Linked DNA regions of Homo sapiens. The main gene of each other region encodes a partner of the protein of the gene in region 2 in a complex. Each region holds a gene or a part of one and is shown on either strand. Other genes may lie near its edges.

What was found.
Region 1: the proteins of TGFB1 (region 2) and ITGB8 are in contact, whole or in part, in a cryo-EM structure (PDB 7Y1T), measured with the Homo sapiens proteins. Residues at the interface, in NP_000651.3 of Homo sapiens: His117, Thr241, Arg243, Arg244, Gly245, Asp246, Leu247, Thr249, Ile250, His251, Gly252, Met253; in NP_002205.1 of Homo sapiens: Ser156, Ala157, Ser158, His160, Asn161, Asp213, Tyr214, Asn215, Leu216, Gly248, Asn249, Ile250, Asp251, Thr252, Glu254, Gln286.

The regions. Positions count from the first base shown.
Region 1 is NC_000007.14:20,327,096-20,334,243, reverse strand, and holds the start of ITGB8 (integrin beta-8 precursor), read right to left. Parts: upstream 3,345-7,148; 5' UTR 2,438-3,344; coding exon 2,311-2,437; intron 2,268-2,310; coding exon of another isoform or gene 2,221-2,267; intron 1-2,220. UniProt on the Homo sapiens protein: Integrin alpha-V:beta-8 (ITGAV:ITGB8) is a receptor for fibronectin. It recognizes the sequence R-G-D in its ligands.
Region 2 is NC_000019.10:41,329,523-41,337,197, reverse strand, and holds the end of TGFB1 (transforming growth factor beta-1 proprotein preproprotein), read left to right. Parts: intron 1-4,916; coding exon 4,917-5,070; intron 5,071-5,987; coding exon 5,988-6,146; 3' UTR 6,147-6,875; downstream 6,876-7,675. UniProt on the Homo sapiens protein: Transforming growth factor beta-1 proprotein: Precursor of the Latency-associated peptide (LAP) and Transforming growth factor beta-1 (TGF-beta-1) chains, which constitute the regulatory and active subunit of TGF-beta-1, respectively.

The DNA.
Region 1 (7,148 bases), on a different chromosome or scaffold from region 2:
GCTGTGGGTAATCTTCACCAGAGACAGTTAAAAAACAAACTGCTATAATTTTTGCTACATCAGAAATCTTTGGATTTGATTAATAACATCCCCCACTGCTCACTATATATTTGTTATTAAAAGTCCACTATATGTTCGAGACCTATAAATTCTGCTTTAAAAATTAAACCCAAAGTTATGCTGGTCTTATGCAGCTTCTGGTCTCTTTTGTATGGCTTTATTGCCCTCAACATTCTCCTGGTGTAAACTACTGAGCAAGGAAACAAGATTTCCATTGTAACTGATACCTAAATTTCTATTCTGCTTTAAGCATCTAATTTGCACTGTAAAGACATATAATTTGAGACTTGTAGCTATATCACAAAAGTACAGCAGTTTATGCTGATCTCTAATTTTCTGAGTTATACTGGCTATAATTTACATTTTTTGCATGTTTTTAACTGCCATGCAAATCAGTATACATCAGAAACCTTTGTATATTGACAGAGACTGGGAAAAGGATGCCTTGTTCTGATTTCAGATAAGCATTCCCTTTTCAGGTCTGCAGGTGCAAGTAGGCCCATTCATAATATTTCCTTCAAATCAGTTTTAGACACTGGGTAGAAATGCAATGCTTTTTCACAAGAGCCTGACTAATGTTTATAAGCACAGTTAATGGTTTTTAAAAATGTACTTTAAATAGTAAATTTTAGAGGCAAGTAGGACTTTTTCCTTTGCCTGTACGTTGGGAACAAAATATACTGTGTTAACACAAATTTTGGTCATTTTACTAGTGTGTATGTGTGTTTACTAAATCTAGAAAAGCACTTTATTACTTATTGAAACAGGATGAAATTATGCTTAGCGGAAAATTTGCTGCAACAAATGCATGTTTCTTCCATTTAAGAGATAACTGATAATGAATGTTACTTTTTCCTTTGCCTTTTCACTATTTTGAAATCAACAAACAAGCCAAAAAATAACCACAAGATAAAGAGATTTACTCTAATTTCTCCATTTCAGATAACTGAGCAAATCTCCCTGAAACAAATATTAGAAAACTGTATATGCAACAATTTCCTAAAGATAGCTGGATGTTTCCATATATCTCTATATCTATATATATAAAACCTACTTATAAGGTTATGATTTGACTGTTTTAATTAGCTTCAGGCAAAACCTTGACACTTTAAAGTATAGGAGTAAATTTTAACCTACAAAACAATTACAACTATTAATTAAACTCTCCTTGAGCCCAAGAGGTCAGAGAAAGGCTCTAATATAATTTAAGGACTTGGTGACCAAACAGAGAAAAAGTGAAATTAAAAAAAAAAAAAAAGAAAGTATGACAAGAGTCACTGCATTAGCAAAAATAAATGTTGGGCCTATATTGAAAACCATTAAGAACTCATCCTAAACTCATGATTCGTCCTATTACTTAGTTGTGTAATTTTCCAACAATCCAATCTGGTATACCACCTTACATTTGATTTTGTTTCATAAATCAAAAGTCCTAAAACACCTTCTCATATGCTATTTGACTTGAACTTTCCTTTGTGATTTAGAGAAGGCAGGTATTATTAATAAACCTCGTTTTACAGATGAGGACAATGCATTTCGTAAAGAGTTAACCTCTCCACATTAAGGTAGCTCTTACACAAATGGTTTGCCTGGACAGAAAGCTGTTAATCCTGGTTCAGAGTTCTTTCTGCTTCTCTGTCTCAGAGATTGATCTCAGTGAGGGATCAATTAGATAGTATTTTTTTTTTTTAAGCCGAAAGGATGATGACTTAAAGCATTAATATCCCTCCAGTGTGGGTAATTCATTCAGATTGAGCACTAATGATAGCAGAAACTTGTATGCTGTCTTTTTCTGGACTCAAAAATTGAAGACTACTCCCATTATAACCAACTTATCTACAGCCTCGAGTTAAAGGCAAGTTAGTCCTTAGTGGACCCAAATGTTAGAAAGATAGGGAGAACATTGTGTACAGACGATGCCCTTAAGAATGGACCAGGGCCCCTAAATGACTTCTGTAAACAGGACACCCTCTTTTCCAAAATTCCTTTCTATTAGGGCTTCCTCAACACCTAGGAGTAACACAGAGTGTCTCCTCTGATAATTAGTCCTTGCTGTCGCTCCAGGGCAGAAATGCTTGACACCTGGCCTCTAGGCCATCTGTGCTGGAGGACGCTGCCCCGCACCCGCCCCCTTGAAGTTCTCTGATGACCGCAACTTACCTGGCCGGGATGCTCTGGCCGGGCAGCTCTTCGTGCCAGCCCAAGACCTTTGGGGAAGAGAAGAAAACAAAACAAAACAAAACAACTTACCACCTTGGCCCAGTCCAAGAACAAGTGAAAACACCCAGGCTGCCCAGAGGAACGAGGCGGGACCTCGCCGGTCGTTTTGCAGGCAGACAAATGCAGCGGTAAAAAAAGCCAGGGCCGAGCCGCACATAATGCAAAACAGCCCGCCCCGCGCCCGCCGCCTGACTGCCTTCCGGACGCGGGCTCGCGCCTCCCGGGCGCACCTCGGGGCCCGCGGGCCGAGTGTCGCTAGGACGTTTTCCGCAGGCCTAGCAGGCGGACCCCGCGGCTCGGAGCAAGCGGTGCAGGTAAGCGGGCCCGGGCACCGCTCGGCATCTCAGGGCCCCTGCGGCCCTCCCGGCTCGGCACGGCGGGTCCCGCGGTCTCCGCGAGAAGCACCTCCTTCGACGGCCAAGGGCCCCGGCGGCGACTGGAGAGAGGGCTCTGCAAGGGCTCCGCAGCCTGCTCCGGGACAAAGAAAAGAGCTTTTGTTTCTCTCCAGCCGGTGGGGCTTCTGCTGCATAAATCAGCTTAGCGAAGAGCCAAACACAATCAAACCCAAACAAAGCCCGAAGCTGGGGGGGAAACCACCCTAATGTACATTCACTGGGTGATGCTGGATCTGTGGGAGGGGACGCCGGCGAGGTCGAGGGGAAAAAAGTCTGTGGCGCATCAATCAGCGCAGTTGCTTCCACAGGTGGGCAGGGAGGCCAACACCATTAGTTGCAGCTTTGCAGCCCCGTCTGCGGAGCAGCGGGCAAAGACAAGTCGGCAGCGTCCTGGCTGGCAAGGGAGGAAGCTCGGGATGCCAGCAACAGGGGGAGGCGGCTCTGGGAGCGCCCTAGAAGCACCCGCCGACACCCGCAGGCACAGAGCGAGGCATCGCCGCTCCCTCCCTGGCGGGGAGTGGGGCCTGCGGCTGCGAGCGCAGGAGGGGAGGTTCCGCGAGGTGCCGGAGCCCGGCTTCGCGGGGCGGGGGCTGCGTGCCCTTGTCCTTTTCGCCTCAGTGCGCGGCTCAGGCGTCCCGCAGTCCAGAGCCCGAGTTGCTGGCGCGCTCTGGGGTGCACACGGCTAGGATGCGAGAGAGGCGAGGCCGGCGATGGGCGGGAGAGGGGTGGTCCTGCTCTGGCCCCCCGGGGGGCTCCAGACCTGCGGGTAGCCGGGTGCACTCAGGGCAGAGAGTTGCTAGGAAACCTCCCCACGCTACCGGAGCGCCTCGCCTCGGCTGCCCGCAGGCGCGGCTGCAGCCCGGGCAGGAGCAGCAGTAACAGCTCGGAGCAGCGTGGGCGGGACATTGGTGAGGCATGAAGTCACCGCGGCCCACACTCGCTCTTTGTTTTGCTCACTCCAGCTCTTTCTTTTCCCCCTTGGCTCTGATAGTTGCCATTCCCATCGTTCACAAGAACTCCTGAAGCGTAGCCGCGCAACAGGAATGGCACGCCTCGTTCCCTTCTCCCTCCTCCCCCGAATCCTTGCACCCCAACGCTCGCGGGGGTGGTGGGAGACTCGCTCAGCGCCAGCGGCAGCTGCGAGCAAACCCCAATCTCTCACCCCCGCGCTGCTCGCCGCTTTGTTCGGAGATACTCACTGCCCCGCAGCTGCTGCATACAAAGTGGAGTCAAGGGACCTCCCCTGCCCCCAACGCCCTCTACTCAGCACTTTGCTTGCAGTTAGGAGCTCGTCCTCTACCCCACCACAAGGCTGCCCCGGTGTCCCTAGCCTTTGGAGAGTTGGACCAGTCTGCAGGGGCTGTTCCCGGAGCGACTGGCCGAGATTTCTCGCTGCTCCTTCTCTGCTCAAAACCTTAACCCTGGACTGGACAGCCCTGTTTTTCCCCAGCGTCTGGTGGTGGCTCTGGGCTTTTGCAAGTTACAGTGGGTCTTTTGATCTTAAGCGTCACCTTCCCAGTAAACGGAACAAAAAGTTACAGACAGCAGCAAAGCGGGGAGAGGGGAGCTAAGGAGAGAAAGTGGAAGGCACTTCTGCCTGCTTGCAGCTCAGAAATTTAGGTGCAAGTAGGGTGCGGGTGTTATGCTGGGCAACTGCCCGGAAGCAGCGCGCCTCCTCGGGTCCTGTCATTACCACGCTAAGTCGAGGGAGGGAACTCAGTCCCCCGCATTGGAAACAAGGCAGTGTTTCCAGTTTAACACGGTGATGGTTCTCTTTTCCCTCTAGGGGCAGGAGCGATTCCCATTCGAGGAGTTTGACCTCTCATTTTAATACAACACCCGCCTCTTAGAGGCAGCAGACCAGTCCAGCCAGGTCAAGGTGAAATATGCGGGAGTTTCCCCCCTTCTTATTTAATAGTTTCCGTCTCCTTATTTGTAGTTAAAAAAAAAAAAAAAAAAAAAGTAGGAGGCGCGGTCTCTCTCTTTCTTTCTGTTGACTGAGTGAATGGAAAGTACCTGGTTAATAAACCACAACATCGAAACTCCCCCTTTCAGGTGTGGACCGCACAACGGGGTGCACAGGATTAGTTAAGCAAAGCAGGAACCCAGCTGGAAAATTAAACGAGCCCTGGATCTGCAAAGCAGGTCCCTTCGCGAGACCAAAGCCGTGATCCCAACCTTAGCAACATAATTCTACTGGAGGTGATGTACTCTAAATAAATAGAAATAAATCCAGCTCCGCTTTAATATTTATTTCCTTTCCTTAGTTCCAAGTTTGAACAGTTATAGTTTTGTTTTTTGGTTGTCTTAAAGGAAAGGCCTAAAAATTAGTTAGGATGGGTGTGAGGACTTGAAAATTTGAACACAAAAATATCATATTCAATATCTGATTAGTGACTCTTCCATTGGGCAGCCTGGGTATTTTCCAGGGGTTATGTCACAGACCTACTGAATGCAGCCACCCTTGAGACATGCAGTGCTTCAATCAAAAAAAAAAAAAATTAAATCCCTAATTCCCATAAGGACATGTCAATACACTTTAAAGTGTCTATCATATCACCATTCCATAATATTCTAAAATACAACTCTTTGTTGCTGGGTTGTAAGTGGCAGTTACAGTAATAAATAAAATATAAATGTATGCAAACAAGAAAGGATGTAACTTTATGAAATTGATGAGGTATGCACTAATTTTTGTAACTCTGTTTTTAGGTGTTGATATATATACTAATCCAGAACAACCATGTAGCAAGAGGAATAAAATGAAGTTCAGAAGTCTGTTTCGGGAAATTTTGAAGCCCTTTAGAAAGAAAGATTTCTACATTTTGTTACATGAAATTCATGCAAATATATGTCAGGTGCCAGTGCTATGGAGTTGTTGAAGAATAAGCACAATACCATTTATTACCACTTCTCAGTTGTAAAGAGGCTGTAACTCTGGTTGTCGAAATAAAATAAAATGAAATCTCCTAGATGTGACACTGTGACCCCTGCCAGTTATTTACAAACAAGTTATCTGCACATTTTGGGCTGTAAACATAAAAGTAAACTCTCTGAAAGACTGCAAATCATCTTTAGGGTTTTCTTAAAGTAAATACAACTAGTGGCCCAGGAACCAAAAGTTTGCTTGTTTCCAGTTAATGTCACTGGTCACCATAACTCACCCTTTTTCCTATGAGGAAATGTACAGCATATTTTAAAGAAATGCAGTATTGTTATCTTCGTCATATTACCTGAAGAATTCTAATAAAGGAAAAATGTTTCGGAAGATGGTGACTTGATTAATTTGTTTTTCCATCATGTTCTGCTATATTGCTTTGAAATTTCTGACAGCTAATTTTTCATCATTTGTGGTAATGAGAGGAAATGAAATTCACAGATAGTCTAAAAATAACATTTTAGTTATTCATTCCAGGCTTCCTATCATTAGAGTCTTTGAGCTGAGTTACTAAAAAGTCATAAAATTAAATTACTTAAATTTCTTCCCTACTCCTTTAACCTTGATTTCTCACTAAGTGAGTTTATGGTGAGAATGAATAAGCTATAGATAGGTAGCAGGAGTGAGGGAGACACTCAGACTGTTTTTTAAGAAATGGAATCTTGCTATCTCACTATGTTGCCCAAACTGGCCTTGAACTCCTGGTTCAAGTTTGAACTCAAGCTATCCTCCCACCTCAGCCTTCTGTGTAGCTGGGATTATAGGTGTAAGACACCACATACAGCTGTGGCTATTCACACTTTAACTAGATGTGCCCAAATTATTGATCTCATAGTGGCACCTACAGACACATTTGAATTTTAATGTTACATCTTTTTGAAGTTGGGATCAGAGCCATTCAGTACGTTTTGGGTGGGTATTCACAAGTTATCTATAAGCTTGCCTGAGACATCTCAGAAGATGATTAATGGTCAGACCAGTGAGATATATTATTGTGACTATGACCTCTAGCTTCTTCTAATGATAAAGTACATAAATTGCTTGAAGGTATTTTTCACTGAATTGTTACATAAGACAGTGTTTCTCATACTGTAGACTGAAGACTGCATACAACACAATCCCCCATAGAGTAATTCTGAGTTCTAATTCCTTGTCTCTATTCCAGGAGATTCTGAATTAGTAGATCTTGTATGGTGCTCAGCAATCTGCATTATACCAAGGTCCTCAAATGGTTTTTATATGCTCTGAAGTTTAAGAACTTCCTACTTTAATGGGTTAATACAGAGACTCCTTAAAGGCCTCATGAGTGTTTAATAACAGAGATCAGTGTCAGGTGCAAATTCAAAGAAAAATGAACTGCTGGAGCCAGTGTCTCTTGCCAAGATAGTTTATGGATGACTCAATCTGTGAGATATTAATGTTTTCTGAAACAAGACTTCCATGATTAAGCTTGGGAAATGCTGAATTAAAGTCAAATTAAATCCCTTACTAGAGGAATTTCCGGAAACTCAATAGAGCAGCATGCCATTAGATTC
Region 2 (7,675 bases):
TGCACTCCAGCCTGGGCAACAAGAGTGAGACTCCCGTCTCAAAAAAATAAATAAATAATTAAAAATACAAAAATTAGCAGGGTATGGTGGCAGGCGCCTGTAGTCTTAGCTACTTGGGAGACTGAGGCAGGAGAATCACTTGAACCTGGGAGGCACAGGTTGCAGTGACCCGAGATTGCACCACTTCACTGCATCCTGGGTGACAGAGTGAGACTCCATCTCAAAAATTAAAAAAAAAAAAAAATCCTAAGAGACATATCAACCAATTGCAATGTGTAGACCTTACTTGAATCCTTATTTACACAGGCTTAAAAAAAAAAGATATTTATGAGACAGTTGGGTAAATGTGAACTCTGTCTAGATATTCCTCTAGATATCAAGGAATTGTTAATTTTCTTACATGGTATTGTGACTGTGTTTTAAAGTAGTCTTAATTAGAGATACATTTGAAATATTTATGGATGAAGCAACACGGTGGATTGCATGTGCTTTGAGATAAACCATTGTCGGCTGGCTGCAGTGGCTCACAGCTATAATCCCACCACTTTGGGAGGCCAAGGCAGGAGGATTGCTTGAGCCTAAGAGTTGGAGACCAGCCTGGGCAATATGGTGAAACCCCATCTCCCAAAAAAAAAAATATGAAAAGTAGCTGGGCCTGGTGGTGTGTACCTTTTGTCCCAGCTACTCAGGAGGCTGAGGTGGGAGGTTGGCTTGAGCCCCAGGAGCTGGAGGCCACAGTGAGCTGTGATTGCACCACTGCACTCCAGCCTGGGTGACAGAGTGAGATCCTGTCTCAAAAAAAAAAAAAAAAGAGATAGTGGATAGGGGTAGAGATGCAATGGAAATTGGCCATGAGTTGGTCATTGTTGAAGCTGCTTTTGTGTACATCTGAAACTTTCCAGCTGGACGCGGTGGCTCACACCTGTAATCCCAGCACTTTGGAAGGCTGAGGCGGGTGGATCACATGAGGTCAGGAGTTCGAGACCAGCCTGTCCAACATGGTGAAACCCTGTCTCTACTAAAAATACAGAAAAATTAGCTGGGTATGGTGGTGTGTGCCTGTAATCCCAGCTACTTGGGAGGCTGAGCCAGGAGAATTGCTTGAACTTGGGACATGGAGGTTGCAGTGAGCCAAGATTGCACCACTGCACTCCAGCCTGGGGCAACAGAGCAAGACTCCATCTCAAAAAAAAAAAAAAAAAACTTTCATAGGAAAATTTGTTCTTAAGGCAGCTCGAACACTACCTCCTTCCTAACCCCTTTCTCCAACATCCAAGATGGATGTGAGGCCTCTGGGCTCCCCTGGGGCCCTAAGTAGATCTTTGACTCAACAAACAGTCTCTGTTGGGTCTTTTATTTATAAAAAGTTTTGTAGCGACAGGGTCTCACTATGCTCCCCAGGCTGGTCTTAAACTCCTTGGGCTCAAGCGATTCACCGGTCTTGGCTTCCCAAAGTGCTGAGATTACAGGCGTGAGTCACTGCACCTGGCCTAGGTCTTGAGAGACTGGACGGAAGAGGCTTGGCAAGGGCAAGGGCTGTGGGTATCCCAAGGCCCGGTGCAGGGTAGGCCCCGAATGTGTGCTGAAAAAATGAGTCAGAGGATCACCTAGACGGCTTGTTCAACACGGACTGTTGTTCCCAGTCCTGCACACAATTTCTGATTTCAGTGGCCTGGGGTGCCACCTGAGAATCTGCATTTCCCATAGTTCCCAGGTGATGCTGCCGCTGGTCCTGGGAGCTCACGTGGAGAGCTGCTGACTTGGATAACAGTATCACAGATTGTTCAAATCCTAGGATCTCAGAACCCCAGCTAGGGTTGAACTGCATATTAAAGATGATTCTGAGCCGGGTGCGGTGGCTCATGCCTGTAATCCCAGCACTTTGGGAGGCCGAGGTGGGTGGGTCACCTGAGGTCAGGAGTTTGAGACCAGCCTGACCAACATGGTGAAACCCAGCCTCTACTAAAAATACAAAAAATTAGCCAGGCATGGTGGCACATGCCTGTAATCCCAGGTACTTGAGAGGCTGAGGCAGGAGAATTGCTTGAACCCGGGAGACGGAGGTTGCAGTGAGCTGAGATCACACCATCGCACTCCAGCCTGGGCAACAGGAGGGAAACTCCATCTCAAAAAAAAAAAAAGATTCCGGACACTAGTTCTTCCCCTTTTGTGAGTTCAGAACTTCCTGTGAGAAAGTGAAAGCCAGGACTCTTTTTCCCAGAAATACATGCATACATACACACATGTGCATATGATCTCAGGCACTCATGGCCCTCCCTAAGCCTGCCCATGATGGCCCCTTGGCCCTCAGCTTAACACCTTATTTTATCTAGTAGCTCCTACCTCTGAACAGATGAGGAAACTGAGGTCCAACCAAATTGGGTGGTACGGGCTGAGTTCACAGGGATCTCAGTTTCTTGACTTCCTTCTCAGGCTTCTGTGGCTCTTGGAAAGGCTTTATCTTGCCTCTAGGTTATCCGGTGCCACTTGAAGTTGGGTTCAAGCGATTCTCCTGCCTCAGACTCCCCAGTAGCTGGGATTACAGGTGCCCGCCACCAGGTCCAGCTAATTTTTGAATTTTTAGTAAAGACAGGGTCCTCAAGTCTGCCTGCCCTAGCCTCCCAAAGTGCCGGGATGACAGGCGTGAGCCACCGTGCCTGGCTGGCCCCACCAATCTATGAGCAGAGGTTGCAGTGAGCCAAGATTGCACCACTGCACTCCAGCCTGGGTGACGGAGCAAGACTCTGTCTCAAAAAAAAAAAAAAAAAAAAAAGGCATTGTCAACTTTTTCTTTTCTTTTCTTTCTTTTTTCTTTTCTTTTCAAGACAGAGTCTCACCCTGTTGCCCTGGGTGGAGTGCAGTGGCACGATCTTGGCTCACTGCAACCTCTGCTTCTTGGGTTCAAGCAGATTCTTGTGCCTCAGCCTCCTGAGTAGCTGGGATTACAGACAAGCACCGCCACACCCAGCTAATTTTTGTATTTTTAGTAGAGACGGGGTTTCGCCATGTTGGTCAGGCTGGTCTCAATCTCCTGATCTCAGGTGATCCACCCGCCTTGGCCTCCCAAAGTGCTGGGATTACAGGCGTGAGCCACTGCACCCGGCCTCTTTGACAGTTCTAAGAAGTAAAATAAACCAGAAGAAGGCAGGCAGAGAGTAATAGATATTGGGAACTGTTATTTTTCCTATTCTGATTTAAATTCCTTTATTATGGAAAATTTCAAATGTATACAAAAGCAATGAAGATAATGAATGCCCGTAAACTCTCATCCAGCGTCATCGGTAATTAAGATTTTGCCCCATTTCAAATGCAGACATTTTTATATTTTCTTGCATAACTGCAATACCGTATTGCACTAAATGGAACTAACAGTCACTTGGATATTTTGGAAAGGATGGCTCAGAAAGGTATCTCTGAGGAGGTGATGTTCAGTCATGTAACTGATATTTACTAGTACCTACTGCATTCCAGACACTGCTTTAGGAGTTAAGGGTCCCTGAGTGAAGGACATTTGAGCTAAGGTTTAAATGAAGTGAAGGGGCCAGGTGTGGTGGCTCATGCCAGTAATCCCAATGCTTTGGGAGGCCGAGGCGTGCGGATCGTTTGAGCCCAAGTTCGACACCAGCCTCAGCAACATAGTGAGACCGTGTCTCTAAAAAGAATAACAAATTAAAAAGAATAAATAGGCCAGATGCAGTGGCTCAGGTCTGTAATACCAGCACTTTGGGAGGCTGAGGTGGGCGGATCACAAGGTCAGGAGTTCGAGACCAGCCTGGCCAACATGGTGAAACCCTGTCTCTACTAAAAAGACAAAAAAATTAGCCGGGCATGGTGGCACACGCCTGTAATCCCAGCTACTCGGAAGGCTGAGGCAGGAGAATCGCTTGAACCTGGGAGGCGGAGGTTGCAGTGAGCCGAGATCATGCCACTGCACTCCAGCCTGGCAGACAGAGTGAGACTCTGTCTCAAAAAAAAAAAAAAAAAAAAATAGAAAAAAAAAGAAGAAATGAAGTGAAGGAACAAGCTGGAGTGGGTATCTGTGGGACTAGCAAGGCAGGCAGAGGGAACAGCAGATGCAGGAGCCCCGAAATAAGACTGTCTGAGGAACAGACAGGACGCCAGTGTGGCTGGAGTGGAGTAGGCGTGAGAGAGGGAGTTGAGATCAGCCAGATTTGATAGCACCTTGTGGCTCACGGTGAGGACTTGGGCATTTGCCGTGAGATGGAGCCAGGTTCAGAGCAGAGGAGTGACAAGACAATTTATAGCATGCCCATGGAGGGCAGAGATTTCTGTCTCTTTTTTAAAAAAATTGAAAAAAAATTTTGTAGAGACAGGGTCTTGCACTTTGTTGTCCAGGCTGGCATGCAGTGGTGTTATCATAGTTCACTGCAACCTCGAACTCCTCGACTCCAGCGATCCTCCCACTTCATCCTCCCAAAGTGCTGGGATTAAAGGTGTGAGCCACCATGCCTAGCCTATTTCTATCTGTTTCATTTGTCCTCAGTCCACAGTAGATCCCAGCCCAGCACACAGTAGTAGTTCAATAAACATTTGTTGCACAAATAGAGCAGATCAGTTTACATGGAGCTGTGTTATTTTGTATGTTCCAGGGTGTGGCATGCCATGATTTATTTAGCCCCCCCGTGGATGGTCATCTGGCTTCTTACAGGCTTGTCTTAAGCATTGCGTGAAATTAATTATTACATTGCTCTTAGCACTGGAGGAAGTGCTTAATCTGTGTTAGTGATTATCATGACTATTTGTGTTGTTATTAACACAGTGGGTGCAAGGGAGACCCAGATGGAGATAGGGCTGGGGGGGCAACCTAGGGTGACACACGCACCTGGGGAGGAGGGGCATGTGGCTTCTATGGTGGTAGCCCCTCCCTGCCCCTGACGCGTCTCTCCTGCCTGCAGCTCCACGGAGAAGAACTGCTGCGTGCGGCAGCTGTACATTGACTTCCGCAAGGACCTCGGCTGGAAGTGGATCCACGAGCCCAAGGGCTACCATGCCAACTTCTGCCTCGGGCCCTGCCCCTACATTTGGAGCCTGGACACGCAGTACAGCAAGGTACGTCTGGCCCACCGGGCTACGAGATGCGCTTGGGGGGAGCCAGGACGGAGGAAGAGGAGAGAGAAAGAGAAGTAAAGTCAGAGAGGTGAGTTGGCAGGATGGGGAGAAAGAGAGGGATGGGGTGGGGAGGGGAATGAATAAAGAGATGGGGAGAGAGGCAGGAAGCTAGAGAGGGGCTCTGAGCAGGGGCCAGAGGGAGATGAGCTATGAAGACCCACAGAGTGAAGTAACAGAGGGATGGGGGTGAAGGGGAGAAGAGAGACAGGGAGATGGAAGGAAAAACGCAGAAATGGAGAGACAAAATGAGAGAGACAGATACAGACACAGAGTTAGGCCAAGGAGAGACAAAGACAGATACACAACAAGGCAAGAGGCGAAGATGAGGAGGGACAGAGACTGAGAAAGAAAATCAGGCGGGCGCGGCGGCTCACGATGGTAATACCAACACTTTGGGACGCTGAAGCAGGAGGATCGCTTGAGCCCAGGAGTTCGAGAGTAGCCCAGGCAGCAGACTGAGATCCCATCTCTACCAAAAAAAAAAAAAAAAAAAAAAAAAAAGCTAGGAGTGGTGGCGCTTGCCTGTGGTTGGAGCTACTCCGGAGGCTGAGGCGGGAGGATGGCTTGCGCTCAGGAGGTTGAGGCTGCAGCGAGCCATGATCGTGCCACTATACTCCAGCCTGGGTGGCAGAGCGAGACCCAGTCTCAAAACAAAAAGAAAATCAGACAGGTGGGGAGAGACAGAATAAGATAGGATGTTAGAAGATAAGAGAGACCGAATTGGAGATGGGAAGAGGGGATGCGGGGAGAGACGAAGTGAGAGAGGCTGGCGCGGTAGCGGGTGGGGGATGGGGCAGTGGAGGGCCGTTTTCCTCCCTCCACGAGCCCTGAGCCCTGACCCCGCCCGCCGCCCGCAGGTCCTGGCCCTGTACAACCAGCATAACCCGGGCGCCTCGGCGGCGCCGTGCTGCGTGCCGCAGGCGCTGGAGCCGCTGCCCATCGTGTACTACGTGGGCCGCAAGCCCAAGGTGGAGCAGCTGTCCAACATGATCGTGCGCTCCTGCAAGTGCAGCTGAGGTCCCGCCCCGCCCCGCCCCGCCCCGGCAGGCCCGGCCCCACCCCGCCCCGCCCCCGCTGCCTTGCCCATGGGGGCTGTATTTAAGGACACCCGTGCCCCAAGCCCACCTGGGGCCCCATTAAAGATGGAGAGAGGACTGCGGATCTCTGTGTCATTGGGCGCCTGCCTGGGGTCTCCATCCCTGACGTTCCCCCACTCCCACTCCCTCTCTCTCCCTCTCTGCCTCCTCCTGCCTGTCTGCACTATTCCTTTGCCCGGCATCAAGGCACAGGGGACCAGTGGGGAACACTACTGTAGTTAGATCTATTTATTGAGCACCTTGGGCACTGTTGAAGTGCCTTACATTAATGAACTCATTCAGTCACCATAGCAACACTCTGAGATGCAGGGACTCTGATAACACCCATTTTAAAGGTGAGGAAACAAGCCCAGAGAGGTTAAGGGAGGAGTTCCTGCCCACCAGGAACCTGCTTTAGTGGGGGATAGTGAAGAAGACAATAAAAGATAGTAGTTCAGGCCAGGCGGGGTGGCTCACGCCTGTAATCCTAGCACTTTTGGGAGGCAGAGATGGGAGGATTACTTGAATCCAGGCATTTGAGACCAGCCTGGGTAACATAGTGAGACCCTATCTCTACAAAACACTTTTAAAAAATGTACACCTGTGGTCCCAGCTACTCTGGAGGCTAAGGTGGGAGGATCACTTGATCCTGGGAGGTCAAGGCTGCAGTGAGCCCTGACTGTGCCACTGTATGCCAGCCTGGGTGACAAAGCAAGACTCCATCTTTTTTTTATGTTTTTTTTTTGAGACGGATTTTCACTCTTGTTGCCCAGGCTGGAGTGCAATGTCGAGATCTTGGCTCACCACAACCTCTGCCTCCCGGGTTTAAGCGATTCTCCTGCCTCAGCCTCCCAAGTAGCTGGGTAGCTGGGATTACAGGCATGCGCCACCATGCTCGGCTAATTTTGTATTTTTTTTTAGTAGAGACGAAGTTTCACCATGTTGTTCAGGCTGGTCTCGAACTTCTGACCTGAGGTGATCCGCCCGCCTCGGCCTCCCAAAATGCTGAGATTACAAGCATGAGCCAGCGCACCCAGCCAAGACTGCATCTTTAAAAAAAAAAAAAAAAAAAGACTGGGCACGGTGGCTCACACCTGCAATCCCAGCACTTTGGGAGGCTGAGGCAGGGGGATCACTTGAGGTCAGGAGTTTGAGACCAGCCTGGACCACATGGTGAAACCCTGTCTCTACTAAAATACAAAAAAAGGCTGGGCGCAGTGGCTCACGCCTGTAATCCCAGCACTTTGGGAGGCCAAGGCGGGCAGATCACGAGGTCAGGAGTTTGAGACCAGCCTGACCAACATGGTGAAACCCAGTCTCTACTAAAAATACAAAAATTAGCCATGGTGGCGCACGCCTGTAATCTCAGCTACTCAGGAGGCTGAGGCAGGAGAATCGCTTGAACCTGGGAGGTGGAGGTTGCAGTGAGCCGAGATCACGCCACTTCACTCCAGCCTGGGAGACAGAGT